2 linked regions of the Homo sapiens genome follow. The protein of the gene in region 2 interacts with the protein of the main gene of each other region in a pairwise test. Each region holds a gene or a part of one and is shown on either strand. Other genes may lie near its edges.

Region 1 (12,770 bases), about 100 Mb from region 2:
GACACAAGTAAGATAGGCTATGAGTTGAGTATTATAACATGCCTAGAATAATACCCTAAGGAAGATGGGGGCTGCATAAAGACTAGATAAAGTCTCCATCTTTTCCCAAAATAATTTGCCAGTTTCTTCACCACTAGCGAAACAGAGAGAACAAGACCCTGTTTTTGAAGGACACAACTATTCTGGTAACCTGAAAAGTGTTCTTGGGTGGAGTTTGGAAGAGTTCTCTTGTCTCTGTTGCAGCCTGAATGGCACATTTCACAAGACTGTCTGTCCCACTCCATTAATCCTGACACTGTGCCCACAGGTTATCTTTGACCACTCATTTGGTTTTCTCATGGTCCTGCTATTAGGAAGGAAATAGCCTGGGCCACACTTAGAAGCATCTTCTATTGTATGTGGCTATATTGGCATCTAGCTAACAAATCAGTCTCTTGGGACCTGGGGAGCATGGCTAGATTCTTCAGAGCTGGATCACTCTTGATAAAACTGATAAAATTAAGCTTCTGTACCTAATTAGCCTGATCAGCCTGTGAGACAATTGTGACCCTACAAAGCCCTACCTGAGAAGCTAGTTCTGGGGTTTCTTTCCTCTCTTACTTGCTTCTCTTTTCAATATAATCTTTACTGAAATACCATCTGGTTTTGTCTTAAAACGATTCCTGAGAAGTTATGTATAAATGGAAAATTTTAGTTCAATTGATTTAAAAAAGTCTTTTATCAATGTGATCTTTGTCTACAGTAATGAAATGCATCATGGTGATCAATCCAGGCAAAATACCCTGCCCCTGAAGCAGAAGTGGTTTGGCAGTTGTCTTTTTTCACTTTCTTGGCCACTCCCAATCTTGCTTAAATCCATCTAATTGCCCAATTGCCTGGTCTCTGGGATTATGAATCTAATATCCTGCCACTTACAGTAAACTCTGGGTGAGCTTTGCCTTATTCTCAAATGATGGGAGCCATGGACTCTGCCCTTTTTCTTCCTGAGCACACTGTTTCCTATGGTGATCACTACCTGAGTGGTGGCATTGATCATAAATATCCTAGACCAGAAAGTATGTCAAACTCTTCCCTAACCAGCTTCTTAATGTGATAGATGGGCCAATACAGCATGAAGGATAACAAGTTGTGGGAATTCTAGAAAAGGTCCTGGAATGAACCTCAGAGCACATGCAATCAGTCATTTCTATCCATCCTGTGGGGTTGTGCAAGGAGTGAGGGAGCCTGAGAGTGGGAAATGCCATGTTATTTATCCTTGGGAAATAGCAGTATAGTGTGAAGGGCAAAGCCCTGGACTGGGAGTCAGGGAATCTAGTCACCGTACTGCTTTTAACTGAGCAAACCTGGGCAAGTGGCTTCACCTCTCTGGGTCTCAGTTTCTATTCTCATCAACTGAATGGATTAGCTTAGGTGATTTCTATTAAATGCTTATTGAATGAAGGGTGGAGGAAAAGTGGTTAGAGAGAAAGGGAAGTAAGAAGTAACTGATTTTAGAAACCTAAATATACAGAGACTAGATTAATTTGGCTATAAGGTGAAATTTAAGACCATAAGCCTGGATAAATTATTAGGAGCATGTAGATGAGGGAAAAATTCAACCCTGTTACAAAGAGGGCTGAAACTCTGGAGTCTGAAATCCTATCTCTTATGTGCTCTGTGTGCAGGCAGCTTCATCTTTCTGAAGCCTCCCTCATCTAGAAAATAGAGAGACTGTGATAATTTATATGCAAGCATGAACAGCATATTATTTACAGAACCACCAGAGATTAAGATGCCTTCTGTTCAGGCTGTGACTCCATAATCTCTGGCAGTTTGAAATGAGGAGGCAGGGGAGGATGTGTGTGGCAGGCAAAGGATGTCATGCTCATGTGTTAGTGTACTGTCTGTCTGTGTTTCTGAAGAGAATGCTGTATGTAGAAGGAGCTCAGAATGTAGAAGCAGGGTCTTATCTATCACCTGCTTGTAATTAAGGAACAATGGTATAGCTTCATAGTGAACAATGGAAAACTTGAGCTTCATGAATATTTAGTAGTCACTTTGTGTGTTACATTGGGTTATGCTCAATTGATGGCTAAAATTCCCAAAGGCAGCACAGAGCAGGACAAAATGCTATGAACTGAGAGGAGGGACTAGGTTCTAGCTCTTATACTGCCACAAATTTACTAGCTGACTTTGGGCAAGTCACTCAATATCTCTGGGTTTTAACTACTTCAACTGTAATACATAGGGAAAAGAGCATGGTAGGGTGATTTCTGAGATTTCTTCTAGTTACAAGATTGGACTCCATGAGCCCTGAATTCAAATGATATTCCTAAGATACTCATAAAATCCCTGTTCAAAGGATAAGCCCCTGGCTGAATAAATACATCCACCTATCTGTATTCAAGTTTCTTCAGTCCTTCCAGTATGACCTCCCACCAGCCAGATAAGGTCAGCCTGCACTTGTATCATTTCTGTTCACACCTTCAGCATTTGCTTATGCTGGTCCCATTTCTACAATAGCTTTCTCTCTCATTTATCCACCTGAAAAAATATTATATACCATTCAAGATACTGTTCAATTATAATTTCCTCTGTGGAAGTGAATTGTTTCCTGGTCTCTCCTTGGAGGCTCCCTCATAATATGTTATAGCATGTGTCATGTTGCATACATAATTAGTGGGGATTACATCTGTGGAACTTTCAGATTACTGGTGACTTGAGGCAGGGATTATGTCTCATATCCAGTGCCTAGCTAGGCCCATGCTTGTCATAAAACAAGTGAATATTACAATGTTTCTTCAATAAATTGCAAAGATAGTCATTTTAGAATCATGATTTACTGATTTTGCATCCCTAAATGCCAACCTTTAGGCCAGCTCTCACATTATAGGCATATTAACCTGCTGGGAATCTTTGCCCCTGCAGAGGTTGGAGGAGGCTTTTTGTAGGAGCTTCTGGGGGCTAATTTTAAAACCACTGATCTCTGACCCCATTGTTTTACTTATTGGTAAACTTACTGGAAGTCTGGTCATACTTCTGAACAATAACTACTACAGACCTCACATGAGCATGGCTGGATTTCACCTGTGGGTGGAGATGAAAAGTAAACGCTCTCTGTCTGCATCAATTGGAGAATTAGGGACCAGGAACAGCACATTACTTAGAGCGGTATTTTTCAGTGGGGGTGGAGTGCTATTGGCATTTTGGACAGGACATTTTTTATTCTGCAGGATTTTTCTGTCTAATGCAGGATATTTAACATTCTAGATCCCAGTCCACCAAAAGTCAGTAGTAACTCCCCTCTCCTCCAGTATCTGTGACAATATAAAATACCCCTTATTGAGGTGACATTGCCTCAGGTTGAGGACCATTAATTTGGAAGAAACCAGGAGGCCTCTCCTATTGTAAGTGCCATTTTCTAGATTTACAAATTTAAATCCAAGCTCTTCTTAACCTTGAAGACATTGATTTAGCTGTCAACCCTGGTTCAGAATTGGGTATCAACAGCTTGAGAGTAATTTCTGGCTGGGAAAGACTGAAAGGATGGAAAACCCATCTCTTTCCTCTGGACTAACTCTATGGTTAACAAGGAGCTTTAATTAATGCCATCTCACTGGCCCTATTTGTAATGTGAGGGGCAAGATCTATTACCCCTATTTTAAAGGTAAGGAAGTTCAGTCTTGAAGTAGTGAATGGTGCTGGCCCAAGTGTCACAGGTAGTACATTTCAAAGCTGAGTCTGGAAAGCAGATCTTCTGACTCCTAGGCCATCCCGCTCCCCACAGAGTATCTAGAAAACCACAGAGGAGGCCGGGCGCGGTGGCTCACGCCTGTAATCCCAGCACTTTGGGAGGCCGAGGCGGGTGGATCATGAGGTCAGGAGATCGAGACCATCCTGGCTAACAAGGTGAAACCCCGTCTCTACTAAAAATACAAAAACTTAGCCGGGCGCGGTGGCGGGCGCCTGTAGTCCCAGCTACTCGGGAGGCTGAGGCAGGAGAATGGCGTGAACCCGGGAAGCAGAGCTTGCAGTGAGCCGAGATTGCGCCACTGCAGTCCGCAGTCCGGCCTGGGCGACAGAGCGAGACTCCGTCTCAAAAAAAAAAAAAAAAAAAAAAAAGAAAACCACAGAGGAAGAAGTAGAGTTATGTATTCCGTAATTGGCCTTGGTGTTGATGGGATATGTAGCTAGTTTAACAAGCCAGAAACTAGAGCTAAAGAATAAACATGTATATTTGACTACTGTCAGAGCATTCTCAGCTGGTTAGATATACCATATTAAGAGCTAAATGCCCATTTGTATATTCAGTACATTGAAATACACAGTGAAACAGATGGGTACTGTGGTGTATTGTATTTATGACTAATTTGTTAACATAGGATTAATGAGAAGAAAACGATTTTCACAACATGATTTTGAAAGTTTTAGTCTTAGCCTTGACCCAAGCCTACCTCCAGGAAATGACACTCTGGGAGCTCTCCCTCTCTACTGTAAAAGCTGTCTAGATTGTTACACTGAGTCAAAAACCTAAAGGCAGAAGCTAGAAGACTCTACTGAACAGTAAAGATGTGGTGGGCTGACCTTTATAGCATTAGAAGGTGCTGGATTGATCCTGCACCAGCATCCATCTATTTCTGGTGGTGTGGCTGGCCACACATTCTGGGAAGAGGCAGAAGAGTGGTCCTCACCACATGCAGCCACCTGCACAGCACCAACATTCAATGCTGAATCACGTAAACAATTGGTCAATGACATCAATTGCAAAAGCACAAGAGCCATCTTACAGAAAGACAATGTAGATTCCCACACACAGGACTGAAGTTCTATTCACCATCTTGGTTGCTCTTCTAGTAAAAAATTGAGCTAAAATAGAAATTCTCCAGAGAATTGGCTGGTGTGTCAAGTGGCTATAAATGGCACACATCAGCTATCTATCTGTCAGATTTGTGGTTTTTATAGAGGCGGTGTAGCATGGTAGCACAAACTTGTTACCTGTGTCAAATTGGGCAGGTAATTTAACTACTTTAGTATCCAGGTTTCTCATCTGTAAAATGGCGATGATAGCATTACCAACCTTATAAAGTCATAGTAATTGTATATAAGTATTAGCTATCATTATCATTATTGTTTCCAGGTAAGGTACTAGCATGAAATTCAGAACTTCTGATAAATAATGATGTAAAAATAAGAATCTTGATTTATGTTTAATTCTTCGGTCTTAAGGAGGCAAATAATGGATTATTCAAGCTCTTGGCCCTATTTCATCGAACCATAGAATGTTATGGCTTGCAGGATATTGTACACTATTTAATCTAAATAACTTCTTTTAGGGATGAAGATTAAAAAGTAAGAAGAGTTAAATCCTTGCCTAAGTTCTTGCAACATGGATGATGCTGAGGTTTTGAATCTTTTTCTATGGCTTATAGTTCCACCCCTGAAATTTCTACCTGCTGACCATCCTTGACCAGTAGTTCTTTCACCTGGAGGTACAAAGGGAAATAATCTGAAATCCAAACACATACTCTTTCCTACTCCCTGAATCTTTGAGAAAAGATAAACCTGAATCTTTGATAAACTCATAGACTAAACAAGTTTTCATGACTAATGAAATGATGCATGATGTTAAAAAATGCAGAGTGGGTTCTATAATTGCCTGAGAGAGAGAAGACTCAAGTCATATTCCTCTGACATCAACTCAGGTGAGTGTTCCCAGCATCAATTTCTCTCTAAAGTGAGAGAGTTCAGTTATGTGATTGTTATAAAATATTGACATAATAATATGTTGTATAATCTCTAACAAACAATTAAGCCTTTCCATTTCTGAAGACCATTTTGTCAACAGAATGTTTAAACACCTGGGTGCAATTGTTTCTTATTTACTGATTATTTTTCAAAAACATGGAAAAATTTTTTTAAAATGAAGAGAAAATGAGAACCAGCTTGATCATTTGTTGTTCATTGGGTTGGAATATTTTGCCTTTGGCAAATAAGAATCAGTTAATTCTAGGCGTTTCCTTATTGACTTGCTAGAATAGAATGAGCTGTTTTTCTTTCATTTTTGTCAGTAATCACCAGTTAAAACCGTTAAAGGGAAGCCTTATTATTCCTGGAAAAGGATAATATTCTGTAAACCATCAGACTGCAATGTCGCTAGTTCTCCTCTAATTAATATATGTGCTTTCATTCTAAGCTAAGCTTCTTCTGAATTTAGGAACAATAGCAATTGCCTGCTGCTATCATGAAGGCCAGCCAAATACTTTCTGAAGGAAATGACAGGTATCTCTTCAAGATAAGAGTGGAAAAGAACACACAACTCCATTTAAGCTTTGAGTTTCTGAAGTTGCCTCATCACAGTGAAATGCAAGGCCCTTGGGCTGATTTGTGCTTTGTTTTCTGGGTGAAGCAGCAAGACACGGTTCTCAGGAGTAGTCTATCTTGGCCATCACTATTTATGCCCCGAGAAGGGCTAGAAGTGTGGTTATTAGGGTAAGATTTGATATACTGTGTTTGCCTCCTGTTTTATTTGCTAAAGGAAAATGCCATAGGGAATACTGAATTCTTGGTAGAGATAGACGAGTGTATGGCATGAATTAACCTGGAACAATGGTCTGAATTCACCAAATATTTATTGATCATCCATGTGTTCCAAACATCCTTAACCACAACATTTTTGTGTCAAAATAGGACATTCTTCAACTATGTTATTGATTAAATGGATGATTGTATGCTATTAGGATTTGTTTCAAAGCTACATTGTCAGTTCTCTTTATCTCTTGGGATCTACAATTAGAGAAATCCTTTAAGCTACAGACAGAGAAGAACTCTTTTCAGCTCCAAGGTAATGGCATTTTCCCCTTTCCAAAATCCAGGTCTTTCCAAGAGGTAAACAAGTCCAATGAAGTGAATAAATCATGACGCCCAACAACATATGTTTATTGTTAAAGCTAGCATCATCTACTAGAGGCCAGAGTTAACAGCTTCGCTTATTTTTCCTTCAGTAATATAGTCCCATATGCAACAAAGGCTTGAGGACAGCAGGCTTGACCAGAAACAGTGGCTAAGTGTATATCTCAACTATTTACCTGGCAGAGCATCTTACAAGGTAGCATCTATACCTTTGTTAACTCTAAACAAAGGTAAACTAGATCTCTGGAACTGGAGATAAAACCTCATGCCCTTGGTCATACTCAGCTTGATTCTCAGGTGCTTTGTTAATGAATGAATGAATAAATAAAGTGACTTCGTTGAGTTTTCAAGATGATAAAACCTAATAAATACAGTGAAGAAACATCTGATGGAATAGCTTTGTTTCCAGGCTTATTTTCTACAATATCTGAGCACTGTGTTAATCTTTGTGTTATAAGAGAAAAATATTTAAGTATCAAAATCGTGAGCCACTATAGAAGGTATGGCTGCATCTGAAAAGCAGTTTTACTTGACGCATAAATAGCATACACAGATCAAAGTGCGGGAGTAGGTCATAGATGCCAGGTTTGGGAGTAAATGTTAGCCAGATGCATAAGGTTCTCCTAATGACCCCAACAGATTTCAACTTAGAGAATGAATAAAGACTTGTTATTTAAGGTTAGAATCCCTAATGCAAACTCAATAATTCAGTCAAGTTAATGACCTTCACTTTTGTTTTGGTTTAATCAATGCATGAAATAGAATTATTCTTGTTCTGATTGATCTATGAGAATGGATAGAAGCTCATTTCAATTTGTAATTAGTAAAAATATGTTTTGAAAATTATCCCTCTCACCCCCTCACACTGAGGAATATCCATAATGCTTGTATTTTGTTATTTCTGAACCCCTATTACCATGATGGGTTCATTATTGATGATTACTTAAAAACTATTAGTTAAAAGGTAAAAGCTGTTCCAAACAACTTAGATTTCCTAGTTATTATTTTTTTTAATCCTGAGAAGAAAATGTTCAGGACCAAATAAACTAAACAACAAACAATGCACGGTATTTCAATTAATAGAATCTAACCAATCAGAAATTTCAATAACTAAATTTTTTCTTCACCGTTCCACTTTTCAGTGAAATAAATGACCACAAAGGCAAAAATACAGTCATATCAGATTAAAATCATTCAGAAATGCATTCAGCCTGAACTACCCTATTTGTACATTGTACCATATCTATATAAAATAATAAACCATTGCAGATTCAATCATGCTCCTTACAAAGTACTTTCGTATACCTACACTTTGAGTTTTACAATAGTCCTTTGAGATAGTTATGGCAATTCTCATCAACATCTTAGAGATGGAGAAATGGAGCTCTAGAGGGCCTCATAATGTCACCAAGTAGTATGTGACACCTGTACTACTGACTCCAAGTCTTATATTCTTTCCATGTCTATCATACTATGATTACTAAGACAAGATAAACACACACACATGTTATTACATATACATGTAATCTATAAACTTGGATTTTGAATTGGAACTTTCAGATTGTATCTAAGTCAAAATTCATGAAACCAGCAAACCTCATTCATGGAATATTTTACTTTATAGTAACATAGAATTCATATGAAGCAAACTCCAGAGGCTACCAGCTCCTTAAGTAAGACATGCACACTCCTTCATAGCCTAATTGTCCTAGGTATCTTTGGGCTACTGGTGATGTATTAGGCATAAGTGGCTTTTTCTTTCTTTCTTGGCAGAAGATTCAAAGAAGAGTAGGTCCTTACTTCTTCCCAGTTCCTAGTTCTTGGTTGCTGTGAGGGTGTGTTTAGTACTGTCTAAAGCAGCATTTTTCAACACAACTTTCTTAAATGATAAAAATTTTCTGATATCTGCCCTGTCCAACACAGTTGTCATTAGCCATATAGAGTTATTGAGCACTTGAAATATGACTAGTGTGACTGGGGGGCTAAATTTTTAATTTTAAAAAGTTTAATTAAAATTTAATTATAAATAGTTACATGTGGCTAGCAACTACCATGTTGGACAGAGCAGTTCTAGACAGTTTAAGGTTCTGGTTCACAGGGCCCAGAGCACCTCAGCAATAGCATTCTTGACAGATCACCTAGTGAAGGTACAATAGAAGTTATGTATTTAATTACAAATTATACCTTAATTGGCTCTAGAGAAGGTTTGAAGCAGAATGTTGACATTATCAATAAGAAGCCATATGGGAATTTTTAAATAAGAGATAACAAATGGGGAGAATATGTTTGGTAAATATTAAGAGATGAGAGAGCAAAACAGTGTCATTTGAACTGAATTTGAATTTCTAAATGCTATGTTTTGGAGCAGGATGGAACTATCAATTAAATACAAAAATCCAATTGATGAAGATGAGACTTTACTATGAGCTGGAAAGAGAAGAAAGAGGAAATGAACAGAACATCAGGTTCTGCTGTATGTTAGAGCGAACTAGAATCCTAGGACCATCTTTAGTGGAGCCACCTACTTGACAGAATTGTGATAATTCAGTAAAATGATTGATGAAATAACTTCACATAGTGCCTCACATATGATAAGCATTTCATAGATATTAGCACTTATAATGATCTTTATTTATAAAAATCCTTAGGTCTTATTAGGGCCTTTTCCCAGTCCCTATGAGAACATGGGCAGTTGCTTAGGGTAACCAATTTTGGGAAAATTATTTTTTGGGGAATAGGTCATAGAAGAGGAGATATAGACAAGATAGGGCAAGTAAAGAAATGACACACTACCATTCCCATTTGTGAATTGCTGCTTCAGAGAAAACTGTTACTGAGGAAGGTGGGTCATATCTCCCAGGTATGTTGGGTTAGACAACACTGGAATAGTAGGACCAGAGGGGAAAGAGCTGGAAGACAAAGGAGTTGGAAGAAAGGTAAGAGGAATGCTTGTATGTTAAGTGTTTGTATTTTTGGCATGTTGTTTAATTTAGTTCACTGATGCTGACGTTTAGTCAAAGATAATCAAAGAAAGCAGTATGGAAGAGTATTTCAGACACCATGAAATAGTGGGAAAGGCCCTGGGCCTGGAATCAAGTTAACTGGGTTCTAATTTTTCAATCATGTGACTTAGACTAATGACCATCTTTTGGTTTCCAAGTTTTCTTTCTTGTAAAACGATGGTGCTAAATGATATTCAAAGCTATTCTAGTTCTAAAATTCAACAGTATAATTCTAAATATGAAAGTACATGTGGACTCTAGTTCTCCAGACTTCCTGAAGCCCTGCTACTCTTTTAGAAAAGGCTGCTGGTTTAGTTCTCTAACTTGTTTCCATAATATTGGAGCTGAAGTTGTGTGAACAGTGGTATCTCAAGCAGCATGCAAAAGCAGTTGGGAGGGTGGGAGTGCATGACAGTGAGTGGGTGAACGGATTAAAGAGAAAAGGGTTGGAAGAGAGGAGAGTGTGTGAAAGAGAAGAGCAGGCCTCCCTCCTTTGTCATTCTCCTGCTATAATCTCCAATAACAGCTATTCAGAGCCAAATACCAAAATGAAGGCATGAAAATGGCTTGGACTTTGAGTTAAATAGATCTGATTTTGAATCCAATCTCTGGAATCAAGTTTCTGTTTCCTTCTCTGTGTGATACTTTTGGTTGGCAGCTATTGTGAAGTTTAAATGAAATATTATTACCCAGCAGATAGAGGTGTTCAGTACAAATAGGCCTCCCCAAATTGGCTCAATCCTTTCCCCATCTTGCCCATAATATAAAAGACTAGCTAAAGAAACAAACATACAGGGCTGCTTAGCGATCTTTATCTAGAGCATGTAAATAACATGCAGTGGGGAAAGAAGGGTTCTAAGAAGAGGAAAAAGCTACAACCATGAAGCCCCTCCTTTGTGTAGCCTAACAATTCTCTGATTCCTGAAAGCCACAGAAATGTTTATTATCAAAACAGCATCCCTAACTGCCTTTCAACACTTTACCGACAGGAAGTCTCACTGCTCAGGTATAGGAAGTAGAACGAGGAAGCTCCCGAAGTTAGCAAAACTGGATCCTGAAGTGACACCCGCTTCCTGCTCTTCCACTCAGGAAAGCCGGGAACCTTTTCCCAAGCGGAGTCCTGGGGAAGCAGAAAACCGGGAAAGGCAAAGCCCCTTCTTCTCCTGTTTCTCTAGGTCGCTTGCTTAGAACCCTTTAGGGTTCTAACGCAGTTTCTGCTCGCAGGGAATGTGGGCCCTGGCGGTATTAGCACCCAGCCTCTGAGAACTTTCAGCACCGCGGACAGCGCCATTCCCTGCACTCAGTCGGAGGAGGAGAGCTACCTTGCCCCCAGCGCTCTCCTAGACCCTATACCTAGGGGGAGGCAGGGTGACATCCTGCGGCCCTTGGGCAATTCGGGCCAGTGACGTTCACCGACACTCAGGCGGGGATCCCTTCGCCAGAGCCAGTTCCTTTGAGTGTCTCCGCTCAAAATCTCAAGGAAACGAGCTTCACACAGGTGGGGGGATGAGGAGTGCCAGAACAGGAGCGAGCCCCGCTGCTCTAGCCTTCCTGCATCTCTTCTCGCCTTTGCTTTGCTCACTCTTCAATCGCAATATAAAATACTCATTTGGGGAGGGGGCAGGGTGACACAGGAGAGAGAAGGAGGGTGGGGGCTGCATCCCGCGTGGCCACGCAGCCCTAACCTGGCCCTCTTGGATTAGAGGGGAGCTGATGTGCTTTGGAATGGGAGAAGAGAGGAGACTGAGGGTTGAAGCAGTGCAGGAGAGCTCCCCTTGCTGGGGCTGCCGGCTCTGGGCAGGGAGCTTCCCTGGACACCGCTCCCGTCACGTCCTCTTCGCCGCTCCCGGGAGAGTCACCACTCTCCGGGGACAGACGCCCCTCGGGGCGCCACCATCCTGGTCGGGGTGCTGGGCTCGGCGGGAGTCCCTTTGAGGAGTTTGCTCCCAGGTAAAAGGGCAGACGTTGCTCCCGACCTCCCCGGAGTCTGCGGCCGGAAAAGCGTCTCCGTTTCATGGTCTCGGTCCGAGGCGGAGAACGGAGCTGCCCGTGCGGGGTGCGCGCCAAGGCGGGGGACAGGACGGGCCCGGCGTCTGCCGAGACCTAGGCTGCCCGCATTCCGCTCGCGGCTCCCCTTCTGCCTCCCGCTCTAGCGGCGCCGGAGCCGCGCTGGCCCCCGCCCCGCCCGGCAGCTCCCGCGAGTCAGAGCCCGGTGCCCCCAGACCGCGGGCAGTCGGGGCCTCATTCCGGGCCAGAGCAGGAAAGAGCCCGACCCACCTCCTCGGTTCTTCCAGGGAACCCCTTCTCGGAGGGCGCCCTGGGCCTCCGCGCCATATTCCTGGTCCCCCGCTCCCGGTGACTCCGGCTCCCTGGGTCATTCCGGGAGAGGCGGCCATCCCAGTTGCAGGGGTCCCGCTGGGGCGCGGGGGGCGCGGAGGGGGACAAACGGCAGCGAAGGGGGCCGTTCACTTACCGGGGTCGGGGCTGGAGGCGACGAGCTGGCTGCCAAGGCTGGTGGCTGGCAGTCCGCACTTACTGCGCGGAGCTGTCTCTCTAGCTGGGATGGGAAGTGGTGGTGGCGGCAAAGGAAGGCAGGAGGCAGCCGCTGCTGCTGAACAGCTCCTCAATTATTCAGATTGGGCCCCCACCCCCCGAACCCCTCCCCGTGCCTGCTCGTCCTCCCTCCAGCTCGCCTGTCTCCGCCTCCTTGGAGTCACATGGCCTGCCCAACCCCTTACATACTGGGCCCAAGCCTGGCACCAGACCACCTCCCACCTGGCCCCCCTGCCTTCCCCTCTGTCTGCCGCTCACAACTCCTCGCTGGCCTTCTGAGCCTCCAGTTGTGACCTCCAGTGTCTTATGTCAGGCTGCAGGGAGGTT
Region 2 (12,770 bases):
AAAAAAGAACTATTTTGGGCCAAGAGTGGTGGCTCACACCTGTAATCCAAGCATTTTGGGAGGCTGAGACCAGAGGATCTCTTAAGCTCAGAGTTTGAGACCAGCTTGGGCAACATAGTGAGACTCTATCTCAACAAAATATGAAAAATTATCCGGGCCTGGGGGTGCATGCCTGTAGTCCCAGCTAGTTAGGAAGCTGAGGCAGGAAGATCACTTGAGCCCAAGAGTTTGAGGCTACGGTGACCTGTGATTGCGCTGCTGCTCTCCAAACTGGGTGAGAGAGAGAGACCTGTCGGAAAACTAAAAAACAAAACAAAAAATTCGTTTTTTAACGGCAAGAAAAGGCCCAACTCCAGGACTGTTTTTTCCATGTTCTATATCCCCCAACTAATTTCTCCCTTCTCTTTCCCTCCCTTCCTTCCTTCCTCCCTTTCTTCCTCCCCGACCTCCTTCCTTCCTGCATTACATGTAAACATCCCTACCTAACTCAAAATTCCTTCACCAAGAAAGCCCTATATCCAATCCTTCTGCTACTGGCTGTGTGACTTTGGGCAAGTTCCTTAACCTCTATTTAAACATCTTAGAACGGTTTTTACATTTTTAAAAGATTGCAGGAGGAGGGCAACAAATAATAATACGCAGCAGAGACCATATGTGGCCCACAAAGCCTAAAATATTCAGTCAGCAGTACACGGTATCAACTATAAGTATTCTTTAAAAACAGACATTCAATCTGAATCTTAAGGAGACTTTAGATCCAACTTTCAGTTGACAGGAAGCAGGAGGGAGAGTAAGACAAGCTAAACGGCACCTCGGCACCACCTCACCCGCTAGTGAATGTGCCGCTGAGATCCCCTTCAGACTGAAGCACTCAGTCCCCAGATTGCTTGACATTTGGCTGCTGATGGGTCACAGCTGAGCTCCTCACCAGGCCTTGCCCTCAGCTGAAGGAAGTGGCCTTGCTAAGGCCCCACCCCTCTCTGGGATGGCCCCTGTTTGAACTTACGTGCATTTCTTGCCTCGTGCATTTCTTGCCTCATTTGGGGACCTCACTGAAAGGCCACTCCAGCCCTACAGCACCCCGCTGAGGCCTCACCTGGCATTGCCCCTCAATTTCTCCCTCTGCCCAAGCCTGGACCCCTTACACCCTCACAGGTGTTGATCGTGAGAACCTTCCCCCCAAAAACTATCTGCATTCAAATCTCCATCCCAGAATCTGTTTTCCTAAGACATCCCTCCACACCCTATTCTCAGCGTAACAGCTAGAGTTAGTGTGTTAGAGATAAGGCAGGTCTTTACTACTTTACTCAGATCCCTTCAATGGCTTCCATCTCATCAGAACCTTGCCATCTACACCCTTGTTGCATTATCTCTTGACTTTGCCTCCTACTCCTCTGCCCTTGATCACACCAGCCACACTGGCTTCCTTGCTCTTCCTCAAACATACCAGGCATGCTTCTGCCTTGGGGTCTTTGCACATCTTCTTCTAGCTTCTTGGAATGCTCCTTGTCCAGTTATCTGCATAACTCCATCCCTCACCTCCTTCTAGTCTTGAGTCAATGAAGGCTTCCCTGACCCCCTACTTAAGTGTGCAGGACTCCACCCCACCCCAGACTCCACATCCCTTTCTTTGGTTTTCTCCATAGCACGTATCAGGATCTGGCACACGGTACATCTTATTGATGTTATTTAACGTCTGTCTCCACCAGAATGTAAGCTCCATTATGTTGTTTAATGTCTGTCTCCATCAGAACGTAAGCTCCATGAGGGCAATAACTTTTATCTATTCTTTGCTGTATTCCCAGAACTTAGAATAGTAACTGATACAAAGTTGCAGCCCAATCAATATTTACTAAATGAACAAGTAAATAAACGAATGGAAGACTGTGAACATGGAATCAGAAGAAGGCTTGTGATCTTCAGGGAAGTCCCATAACTTCCCTAAAGTGGAATGGAAGACTTCCCTAAACGAATGGAAGACTGTGAACGTGGAATCAGAAGGCTTGTGATCTTCAGGGAAGTCCCATAACTTCCCTAGAGTGGAATGGAAGACTTCCCTAAACGAATGGAAGACTGTGAACGTGGAATCAGAAGGCTTGTGATCTTTAGGGAAGCATTCTTCACATGAAAAACAGGAACCATAATTCTTATGTCATTTTGGTAATGATTATACAATATAACATTTATAGAAGCATCATGTAATAAACTGCTAAATAAAAGGCATTTTTGATCAAACTGAATTCTTCATCAGAGAGGTACTTAATTTTTATAATCTAAGAGCTACCAGATTGCCAAAAAGGAAGCACAGAAACATTCAGACACAGAAAACCTTAAAAATGGTTCTGATATTCAAATAAAATATAAAATGATTTATTCCAAAGCCATACCCAAAACATACAATGAAATACATCCCTGTTAAAGACTTAATAAAAAGAGCAATCTTTACATTTTACAATTTGAAGACCTTCTGTTCCCACAAAAAGTCTCATAAAATTCCATAAAGTGTCAAATGTATTTTCCTGTTTATATAAAATGTATTCTCTCTTCAAATATAGCCGTTTTATTATGAAATTGTTCTCAATTTCTGAAATTCTCAGTAGTCTATAGTATCCCATTTTCACATGCTTCTTAAAATGAGGTAAGAAGACAAACGGTGAAACTTTTTTCAGATCATTTTTTCAGAAGTCAATGCCTTGCTGATGCAAAGCGCAACATGCTTTTGTCATCCCTTTCATCTGAAATATTTTCCCAGTGGTTACTCAGTATTTTGCACACAAAAAACAGTTACAATACCTGCCACTTAAAAATCCATAACATGTTGTAATTCTTCTTATGTGATTTTAAGGTCTGAATCAAAGCCATTGCTACAGTGATTCACTATTTTCTTTACAGGTATTTTAATAAATATTCCTCAATTCTAGAAGACTGTTCCAATCCTTTAAAGTGGGGGTCAGCAAACGTCTTCTGTAAAGGTCCAGATATTTTGTTTTGTGTGTCATTTTTCTGATGGATATTTTTTACAACTGTAAAATATTTTTAAAAAATTATTTAGCTATTCTGTAATTTGTTACTCCATTATTTTAAAAAATAGAAGTAACTAGTCTCTAAATCAGACTACTCAAGTGTTAATAAAATGTAAACTTCACATTGTGCAGTAAAATAAATCCATGGTTTCTGACTACTAAATTGAAAGTTCATAAGCAGTAAGAAATGAATCCCACTCAAAGAGTGGGGCTACATTCCAGATATTCTTTTTAATCAATGACACTGTTTTAGAGCTTCTTTTTCACTTTCATTGAATAAGTCACATGTCTTTAGTTTGTTTTTTCTTGGTCTTACTTTTCACAGGGAAAAATTCTCTTCATGAGGCTAATTTGAAGTTTTTGAAATTAAAGACTGGAATACTTTCATGCTGACAGAGGTAGACGCACACGCACTGGTATATGCAGTTACAAATACTCGCATAAAATGGAAACCATTATTTCATATATAAATTAATTAATCACAAATGCTCTCCATGGCTAAGAAGGAATCAGTGGAAACCAGACAGAAGGTATGCAAGACAGTCCTACAGAATGTTCTAATTTGCTTTTATCACATGTAGTTGCTACATTTTAGGAAAACATGATTTAAATATGAAACATGTAATATAAATTAATATAGTGGCATGATTTATTCAGGTTCTCGATGCATATAACCTGGAGGTGACTAAACGCTGATCTATAACATGGTCCTATAGCTTGGTACTGAGAATCACAACTCTGCGTGTGTGTGTGTGTGTGTGTGTGTGTGTGTATGTTTTGCATGTTTTCCTTTCCTACCACAAACAGTGTTATAACCAGATTATGGCAAATAAAAGAACAGTTGTAAATTTACCCAAATATATCATAAACAAGTTGGAACACTCTGGAATTACAGTCATATGATATTCTACAAAAATATTTACAAATTCTAAAGCTGAAAAAGTTGAAAACTTTGGTATTCCTAAAAAGAGAAAGTTCAGGGCCATGCGTGGTGGCTCACACCTGTAATCCCAGCACTTTGGGAGGCAAGGTGGGAGGATTTCTTGAACCCAGAGTTCGAGACCAGCCTGGCCAACATGGTGAAACTCCGTCTCTATCAAAAATACAAAAATCAACTGGGCGTGGTGGTGCACGCCTGTAATCCCAGCTACTTGGGAGGCTAAGGCACAAGAATCACTTGAATCCAGAAGGCAGAGGTTGCAGTGAGCTGAGATCATGCCACTGCACTCCAGCCTGGGTGACAGAGTGAAACTGTATCTCAACGACAACAACAAAAATTTAGCCAGGTGTGGTGGTGCAGGCTGCAATCCCAGCTAGTCAGGTGGCTGAGGCAAAAGAATCGCTTGAACCTGGGGAGGCAGAAGTTGCATAAACTGAGATCATGCCACTGCACTCCAGCCTGGGTGACAGTGAGACTCTGTCTCCAAAAAAAAAAAAAGAAAGAAAGAAAGTTAAAGTATACTGGGGAGTCCATGCTTAATTTTTGAACTATAAAAAGTTTTCAGTGCAAAATTATTGCTATTGATAAATAGCAATGACACAAAAACCACATGAAACACTTAACATCTATACAACACATAACAATATCCTGAAGGTATGTTTTGGCATAGAAAAGGTAATTCGGGGATAGGAAATAACAGATTGCTTTACTGATTTAATTCTAAGTCTGGGTGTTGGAGTGTTTAAACACTCTCTTTTTGCAAACAGACTCAGCATATTTATAGCTCATCATGTTTCTTCTTAAATGGCCACTTTGGGTGTTGCAATACGTGGTCTGCAGCCTGAAGGACAAGATACATAAATTCTTCTACATCGAAAGAGTAGTTGGTGAACTTCGGGTGCTCCCCCAGGGTTGGATGGTGGCCCTGTGAAAATAAACCAAAACACGAATCCATAACTCAATGAGGGCATGGTTTTCTCTACAGCAGGAAAATTATGTTACTTTGGTTAAGGCAACTAATTTATGTTCTACATCAGAGACCAGCAAACTTTTCCTGATAAGGGCCAGATGATAAATATTTTCAGCTCTGCTGACTCTAAGGTCTCAGTCACAGTTACTCCACTGTCGTTGAAGTGCACAAACAACTAGAGACAGTGCATAAACAGACAGGCATGACTGTGCTTTCTTTACAAAAACATGTCATGGGCTGGATTTGCCCACAGGGCTGTTGCTTGTTGATCCCGTCTCTATATATAATCTAATAGATCTTTCTAAGCCCAAATTTCACGAAGCTGCCTTTGTAACATTAAAGATATAGGTTGCTTAATTCCCCTTTTTCTCCTATTTGCAAATATAAAATAAAACAATTCAGTATTCCAGAGAACAGTTTATCTTTGCAGCACTGAAGTTCAATAACCATTTTTCATATCAATAATTGGATACTTTAAACCAATTAAAAATGAAGCAAGGTAAGTTTTGTGATTGAACTTTACCTTATCCTGAGGAAAGACTTTGTTCTGCCGTCGCCAAGTGATGTAGTGAACGCCTCTCAGCCTGGCCAAGTCTAAGTAACAGCGTTCATCTTCACAGTTGTACCTAAGGACACAAGGGTGTCACAACATGAGGCTTTTGTCCAAGGTTTTTTCCAAATCAACAACTCTGCGAAAATAAAATGCAGCTCCCAAATATGTCCTTGCAAAAGGTTGTAAACAAGACTGAGGAAGACAGTAAACAAGACTGAGGAAGAGAATGTAAAAATATTCTCTGAACTAAATGAACTTAACTTTTAAAAAACAAAATAGGGTCATGGAATGGAGAGAATTGACCTTATTCAATAGGGCCTGCTGCCTATGGACTTGGCATGACCTTATAATACCTCTGTCTTTAAATGTATGAAAGAGGCAAGGGGGATAGGTAACACTTCCAAGGTCATATAACTAAATAGTGAAGGATGCAAAAGTAGAACCCAGGTCCATTAGACTATAAGGCTTGAGTTTTCTCAGTTACATTTCTCTCCCTTCTCTCTCCTTTCTTCCATCCTTCCTTCTCTCTCTATAAGAGAAATGACAGAGATAGAATCCATTATCTGGCTATTTCTCTACATATATCATATATATTTTTGAAATGTTTTGCAGGGCATTGGAAGTTCATGACAACTTTTTTCCTAAATAGCCTCCTATTTAAATACAGAGTCAAATCACTTTTAAAATGAAACCATAGAACCCAGATATTTAGACATAATGGGGGGAAACAGGTAACAGTAACTGCTATTAGTGTCTCAAGACCTAAAATGGAGCACAGTGCCAACAGCAGAATTATTATGAGAGGGAAGGTCATGTCTCCATAAACCAACCACTGAGTTAAAAGTATGCCCTGGGCAAATCATGAACACCCAAGGGCCTCAGTTTCCCTGTGTATGGGATCAGCAAGCACTAAGTTAAGTGGTTGGCTTGTGTTTTGAAGCTATGTCGTGCATGAGACATAAATGCTTTCTTTTAACACAATAACTACACTGTTTGCAAGAAGACGCTCAGAGTTTGGGAGGTATGCAGGAACAAACTCAGAATAAGGAAACCACAGATTCACATCTTCCATATCATGCTCGGGATGGGAAGATGAAGGGGTAGTTGGCTTACTAAGTGCAATGGCAGGCTGCAGACTTTGTATTTTTAGCTTCAGGCCTCTTTTCTTTCCAGATTGTCTATATGATGTGACTTCTCTTTTTGAATGATTAAATATTAAGCCTTTTGATGCTCAGAATGAAAGCTTTAGCATGCATAAAAAGCATTATCAGTTGCTTCAGTGTAAAACTGCCTCCCAACACTTACAGTTCAAATACAGCAGCCCAGTCTGGAAGGAAAAGTAAATGGGTCAGACCAGCTCCATGCATTCCAATAAATATGTCCGTGTTGTGTGTGATCCTTAGTTGATCTAAAAACCCAAGTTCTCTGTGAACATACAGAATAACATGAGAGAGATGGGGAGAAGAGAGAAGTATTAGGTTGAGTTAGTTCATGATTCACAGTAAGGATATTTATAAAAGTGTATTGCCCATTTTAAACCACATTCCATTTTTAAGAAGCATTTTTGCCAATTTCAAGTGCGCTCTAGTAATTAATAAGTTTCTTAATAATTTAACATATTTTCTAAGTAAGCTCACCTATCCTTTTAGGTTTAAGTACTTTTTTTAAAGGAAACTTTAATATCTGTCTTAAATGGAAAAGCAGTGACATATGACATCAACAAAACTGTAAAAATTGATATAATCAAACTAAGTAGTGTTCAAATCGAGGTAGATACTATTGCAAGACAAAGCTCAGAGCCTGAGGCCTGCTCTTTCTTCATGAAAAAGAGAAATTGGCAAGTGTTAAAGAGATGTTGTGACACACTAGCACTAAATTAAAAACTATTTCCTTAGGACAATAGAAGCACTTTTTAAAAAGAAACATTTCTCCTTGTGTGATTTAAGTTTTTATAATGCCCTCTGGGTACCTCCAAAATGATCTCAGATACCACCAGGGCATTATCCTGCCTTTGGAACAGACAAATCCACAATTTTATGCATGTTAGGACTGTACAAGTGTTCTCTAAATCCAAGACACTAACCAGTGTGTAAACTTTGAACCAAAAATCAGTCCCCAAACAATTCACTGAGGTGAGGCTAGGGAGAAATGCTGGAATAAGGGTGACACTCTGAATAAACAGAAAGAAATGAGATCTCCCAGCCCCAACTTACCCAAAGTAAAGAAAAATAAATGATCAAGATTATTTTGGATCTACGAAGGGAAGCTGAATTCCCTTTTACACCAGCTAACAACAAAAACTCCGCATAGGAAAAAGATGACAGCTCCATGTGTATGTGTATCACAACGAGAACATGTGCCTCAGTTTCTCCAGGAATGTGAACTGATGCCAAGGGAAGGACGGCCATTCACCCAGGTGAACATACCCCTGCACTGCCAGTTGTGGAAACGCCTGTGGTCAGCACTCACCAATCCCCATGCCAACATGTTACTAGTATTTCCCGCAGACTGGCAAGGTACGAATTCATTATCATTCTTGCTTATCTGAGAAACTACAACATATCCTTAAAAGCCAGTCAATGATACAGCCTCAGAGGTGCCCTGCCCAGTTCTTTCCATTTCTTCCCAGCCTCATCTAGGTGAATGGTTTTGGGACTGATGTGGGGGCCCCATATTGGCTCACTCATTTCTTCAAGCAACACTGACACAACATTTCTTCAGCGCAGCAGATTTTACATAATCTGTAAAATGGGACTAGCTGGGCCAACTCAGAAGACTGTTGAAAGCGTGAGATGAGATAAAGCAAGTAAGCATAAAAGTACATTTCGATAAATAGTAGCTGTTTTTACAATTGCTATTTACCTCTATTCAGTGTCTGAGATCCTCAAGACCAGGGCTATGCCATCCGCCATAATGGGATTCCTACTGCTGAGACTGGTGACCAGCTCATGGGTCCCCAATAGAGATTTATTGCACAAATGAACTAATGTATGATGAATGAAGTGCAAAGCTCCCATGCCAACATTCTCTGAAATTAAGTGTATCTATATTAGATACCCACATGCTGGGATATGTATACTTCTTTTAACTGGAAAGTGTTCACAGTGTTAGATTTGGGAAACACAGCTGTGACTGTAGGTGGACATGGAGACAGAAGTTTTCACTTTTCCTTTTGATCTTTTCTATACTGCTTGACTTTTCAACCAGAAACATGTACTACTTTTACCAGGAAGATGTAATTCTAGCAACAGGAATTACCCAAACTGTGAATAATAGGCATATTCTGTCTTTCTAAGCCTTTTAGTTGTGTTAAGAGTTTTAAAAGAAATGTAAATATTTGGTAAGTTTTTTTAAAATTTCATGTTATTCTGACCCTCAAATTATCCCCATATAAATAATTTTCAGTCAGATGTTGAAATCTGGCAGGAGGCAGGGCAAATTAGGTTTATAACATCTAAATTTTGATAACTTTTTTGTTATCAAACATTTGATAATGTTATCAAATATTTGATAAATTTTATAACACCTAAATTTTGAACTAGTTGCCAATTTTTTTTTTTTTGAGACAGAGCCTCGTACTGTCACACAGGCCGGAGTGCAATGGTGCAATGTCAGCTCCCTTCAACTTCTACCTCCTGGGTTCAAGCCATTCTCCTGCCTCAGCATCCTGAACAGCTAGGACTACAGGCACACGCTGCCACACTCGGCTAATTTTTTTTATTTTTTAGTAGAGATGGGGTTGCACCATGTTGTCCAGGTTGGTCTTGAACTCCTGAGCCCAGGCAATCCACCCATCTCAGTCTCCCAAAGTGCTAGGATTACAGGCGTGAGCCATCGTGGCCAGTCTGCCAATTTTTTAAAATTATGAAATTTTAGGCCGGGTGTGGTGGCTCATGCCTTTAATTGCAGCACTTTGGGAGGCAGAGGCGGGCAGATCACTTGAGGTCACGACTTCAAGACCAGCCTGACCAATATGGTGAAACCTCGTCTCTACAAAAAATACAAAAATTAGCCGGATATGGTGGCACACGCCTGTAGTCCCAGCTACTCGGGAGGCAGAGGCAGGAGAATTACTTGAACCCAGGAGGTGGAGGTTGCAGTGAGCTGAGATGGCACCACTGCACTCCAGCCTGGGTGACAGAGCAAGATTCTGTCTCAAAAACAAACAAACAAACAAACAAAAAATTCTGAAATTTTAAATGAAAATCTGAATTCATCACTTCTTTTGAATAAGGAGATGGAGTGACAACATCAGGCCCCAGAAAGCCAAAGAGTAACTGCCCTTGTTACCAGGGACTTCACCTGCCCATTTCATTCATCTGTAGTGTCTACTTGTCCCTTCTGGGCCTACAAATGCCAATGGCTCCCACTGGAAAAATGCTTTCTAGCCCCCTTGACCTCATCCAAGCAAAAGTTGACAGTGTCTGCTGAGATTGGCTATTACTTACCTATACTTGTAATCAACAATCTGGACTTCAAATGTAGATACTGTTTTCAGTGCATTTACAAGCTGGGAAAAAAAGAGAAACATTTAGCATTTCTTTTCCTTCTTTCACTTCTGTTTTTCCCTTATGAGTCCTAAAATTTCTTTTTTTGCATATACTATTTCAGATATTAAATATCATTTGGTAACAACAACAACAAATAAAAAGAAAATAAATAAATATCATTCAGGTCAATAGTTCTGAACTGTCATTAAGTTCAAATCCAGGCCCCACCTGTGAACACACGACTCTACCTCCCTCAGATACCAATGCACTGTGTTGCTGTGAGGCTGAAAGGAGAAGACAATTCAGGGAAGTAAAGTGCTAGGCACAGAAATAGCTAACCATTAACTGTTGTTATTACCATTTGCTTATTATTCCCTCAACTTTCAACACACATTTTTGGGCATCAGAATGCCCAAAATGTTCTAGACTTTACCTTAAGAGTTTTTGCCCCATCCATTATCTCATTTCAGACAACACTAGCGCTTTGAACCTCATCCTCTGAAAATACTAAGGTCTTGGCAGAAAAACATTTTCAGTACTTCTACATAGAAAAACAATTATTCTTCTAGCAAACAGAAAGTAACAAAGCATTGTTAATCTATTATCAAAAATATAGTCATGGTTCTCTGTCCCTCACAATTAGGCCACGGGGGATCACCACCATTCAGAAATTTCTGCAACTGTGTCATGTTGCCTTGTGGCATGCACTGCACTGCAACAGCAACATCAACAGTTGCAAGTATCATTGATGGGGCATGTAAATGGTGCTGGCATTTCTAAGAGTGTCGTTAGGTTTACTTCACTTAATCCTCGTAAGAATCACACCAGTGGCTGGGCGCAGTGGCTCACACCTGCAATCCCAGCACTTTGGGAGGCCGAGGCGGGCAGATCACCTGAGGTCAGGAGTTCGAGACCAACCTGACCAACATGGTGAAACCCCGTCTCTACTAAAAATACAAAATTAGCTGGGTGTGGTGGCACATGCCTGTAATCCCAGCTACTCGGGAGGCTAAGAGAAGAGAATCACTTGAACCCGAGAGATGGAGGCTGCAGTGAGCCGAGATCGTGCCACTGCACTCCAGCCTGGGCAACAAGAGCAAAACTCTGTCTAAAAAAAGAAAAAAACATACCAAATATCATACCAAGTAAGTATTAGTACTATGCCCACTTTACAAATTAGACAAGATAGGCTCAGAGAAGTGAAATAACTTTCCCAGGATCTCACAGCTCCCAAATGCACAGCCAAAAATAAATCTAGGTCTTCTGACCCCAGAACCTGCGTTCTTAACCAGTGCACTCTATTGTCCTGCTTACAGAAAGCAACAAGCAGTGACCAACATTTAATCCCCTCCCCTCTCTCTCTCTCTCTCACACTCACACACACACACACGCACACAGTCATAACATGGAAATTTCCCTCTCCAGACAGCCACTGAAATCTTATAAAGAGTTGAAGGGGTAAGAAGATTAGAATTCTGTTTTACAGGAGAGATGGCAGATGGCATAAGCCTTGGTCTTTTAACAAGATTGCCCACATAAAAGGAATCATGTGTGCTGACGGTCTCAGGGCAAGCATGCCCTTTTTCATGACTTCTAGTTGCACGAAAAAGGTGGCCCTATCCCTTCCGATGGCTATTCAAACCCTAAAGTTGGGCAGAATTCCACAAGCCATGATTTAATGAGGCCATTTGGGTTGATTAATACATACCTGTTTATTAATCAAAGTATAGCCAAAGGTGCTTTCTTCCCTTCCCAGGAGCTGCCTTTCTAGTAACATCCAATCCTCAAGAAAGAAGCAGCCAGTTGGGTGCTCTTTGGCTTGGAGTTGGGGGCTGAATGATCAAATTTCGCCTTTGGGTGCCATCATCTGGGCAATGCGCATGACTGGATCTGAAAACCTCACACATGCACTAAAGCATCTACCAGCACTATACCTTTCTACTGGACTTCTCTGCAGTGGCCTGATGTTGTTCCTCAGCCTGCCCCTTCCTGATGGACTGGGGCCAGAGGTAGCTTCTGCCTCCTCTGAAATCTATTTGCTGTTTTAGTAGTAGCACACTCTGGCTAAGAAAGCAGTTTCAGTCCCTGACTACCTTGACTCACGCCCCCGTTACTCTAATCACCAGCCGGGTGACCTTAGGCATGTTTTTTAACCACTGAGCCTCAGTGTCCTTGTCTAGAATAGAGGATAATAATACAATACCTACCTCATGGGTTTGCTGGGAGGGTTGGGGGGCACAATGTACAAAAGGAGCACACAATAATATGCTTGACCCCCAACTGCACTCAATATGTATGGTCTATACCAATATATACTGTTGATCTGTTGGCTAGTGAGGCTTCTCATTTGTATTCCCAACATTGCACTATTTGATACGTTCGTATTTCTAGGTCTTTAAACACACACATACAAACACACACACTGCTCATTTCTTCCATCCACAGAGCTTACAATTAACACCTCATTATGCCATATGTTCATGTCCTCTGTAATCCATATGGGTCTCAGGAAGAGATGTTAATTACATAATTCGGATCAGCCTGTTAGGCAGCCAAATTAGTCTGTGTAAAATATTTTACCCATCAAAACATGACACACACCACCTCCCCCCTCAACTTTCCTCTTACTGAATATTTTCCAGTTTGTTTCCACTTATCTGCTCAAGTTAAAAGCCTCAAGTCACACTTGATCCTTGATACCTTTCCTGGCCTTCTCTAATGTGAATGTACTTTTACATTCCAAAAGTAAGTATCATAGGTCCTATCTCCAAAATATGTCTTGAATGCATCTACC

What was found.
Region 1: the proteins of EOGT (region 2) and SLC7A14 interact in binary tests that used the Homo sapiens proteins (3 or more experiments, as listed by UniProt).

What each region holds. Positions count from the first base shown.
Region 1 is NC_000003.12:170,573,548-170,586,317, forward strand, and holds the start of SLC7A14 (solute carrier family 7 member 14), read right to left. Parts: upstream 12,529-12,770; 5' UTR 12,364-12,528; intron 1-12,363. UniProt on the Homo sapiens protein: Imports 4-aminobutanoate (GABA) into lysosomes. May act as a GABA sensor that regulates mTORC2-dependent INS signaling and gluconeogenesis. The transport mechanism and substrate selectivity remain to be elucidated.
Region 2 is NC_000003.12:68,972,877-68,985,646, forward strand, and holds the end of EOGT (EGF domain-specific O-linked N-acetylglucosamine transferase isoform a precursor), read right to left. Parts: intron 9,997-12,770; coding exon 9,935-9,996; intron 6,912-9,934; coding exon 6,792-6,911; intron 5,560-6,791; coding exon 5,457-5,559; intron 4,889-5,456; coding exon 4,742-4,888; 3' UTR 2,349-4,741; downstream 1-2,348.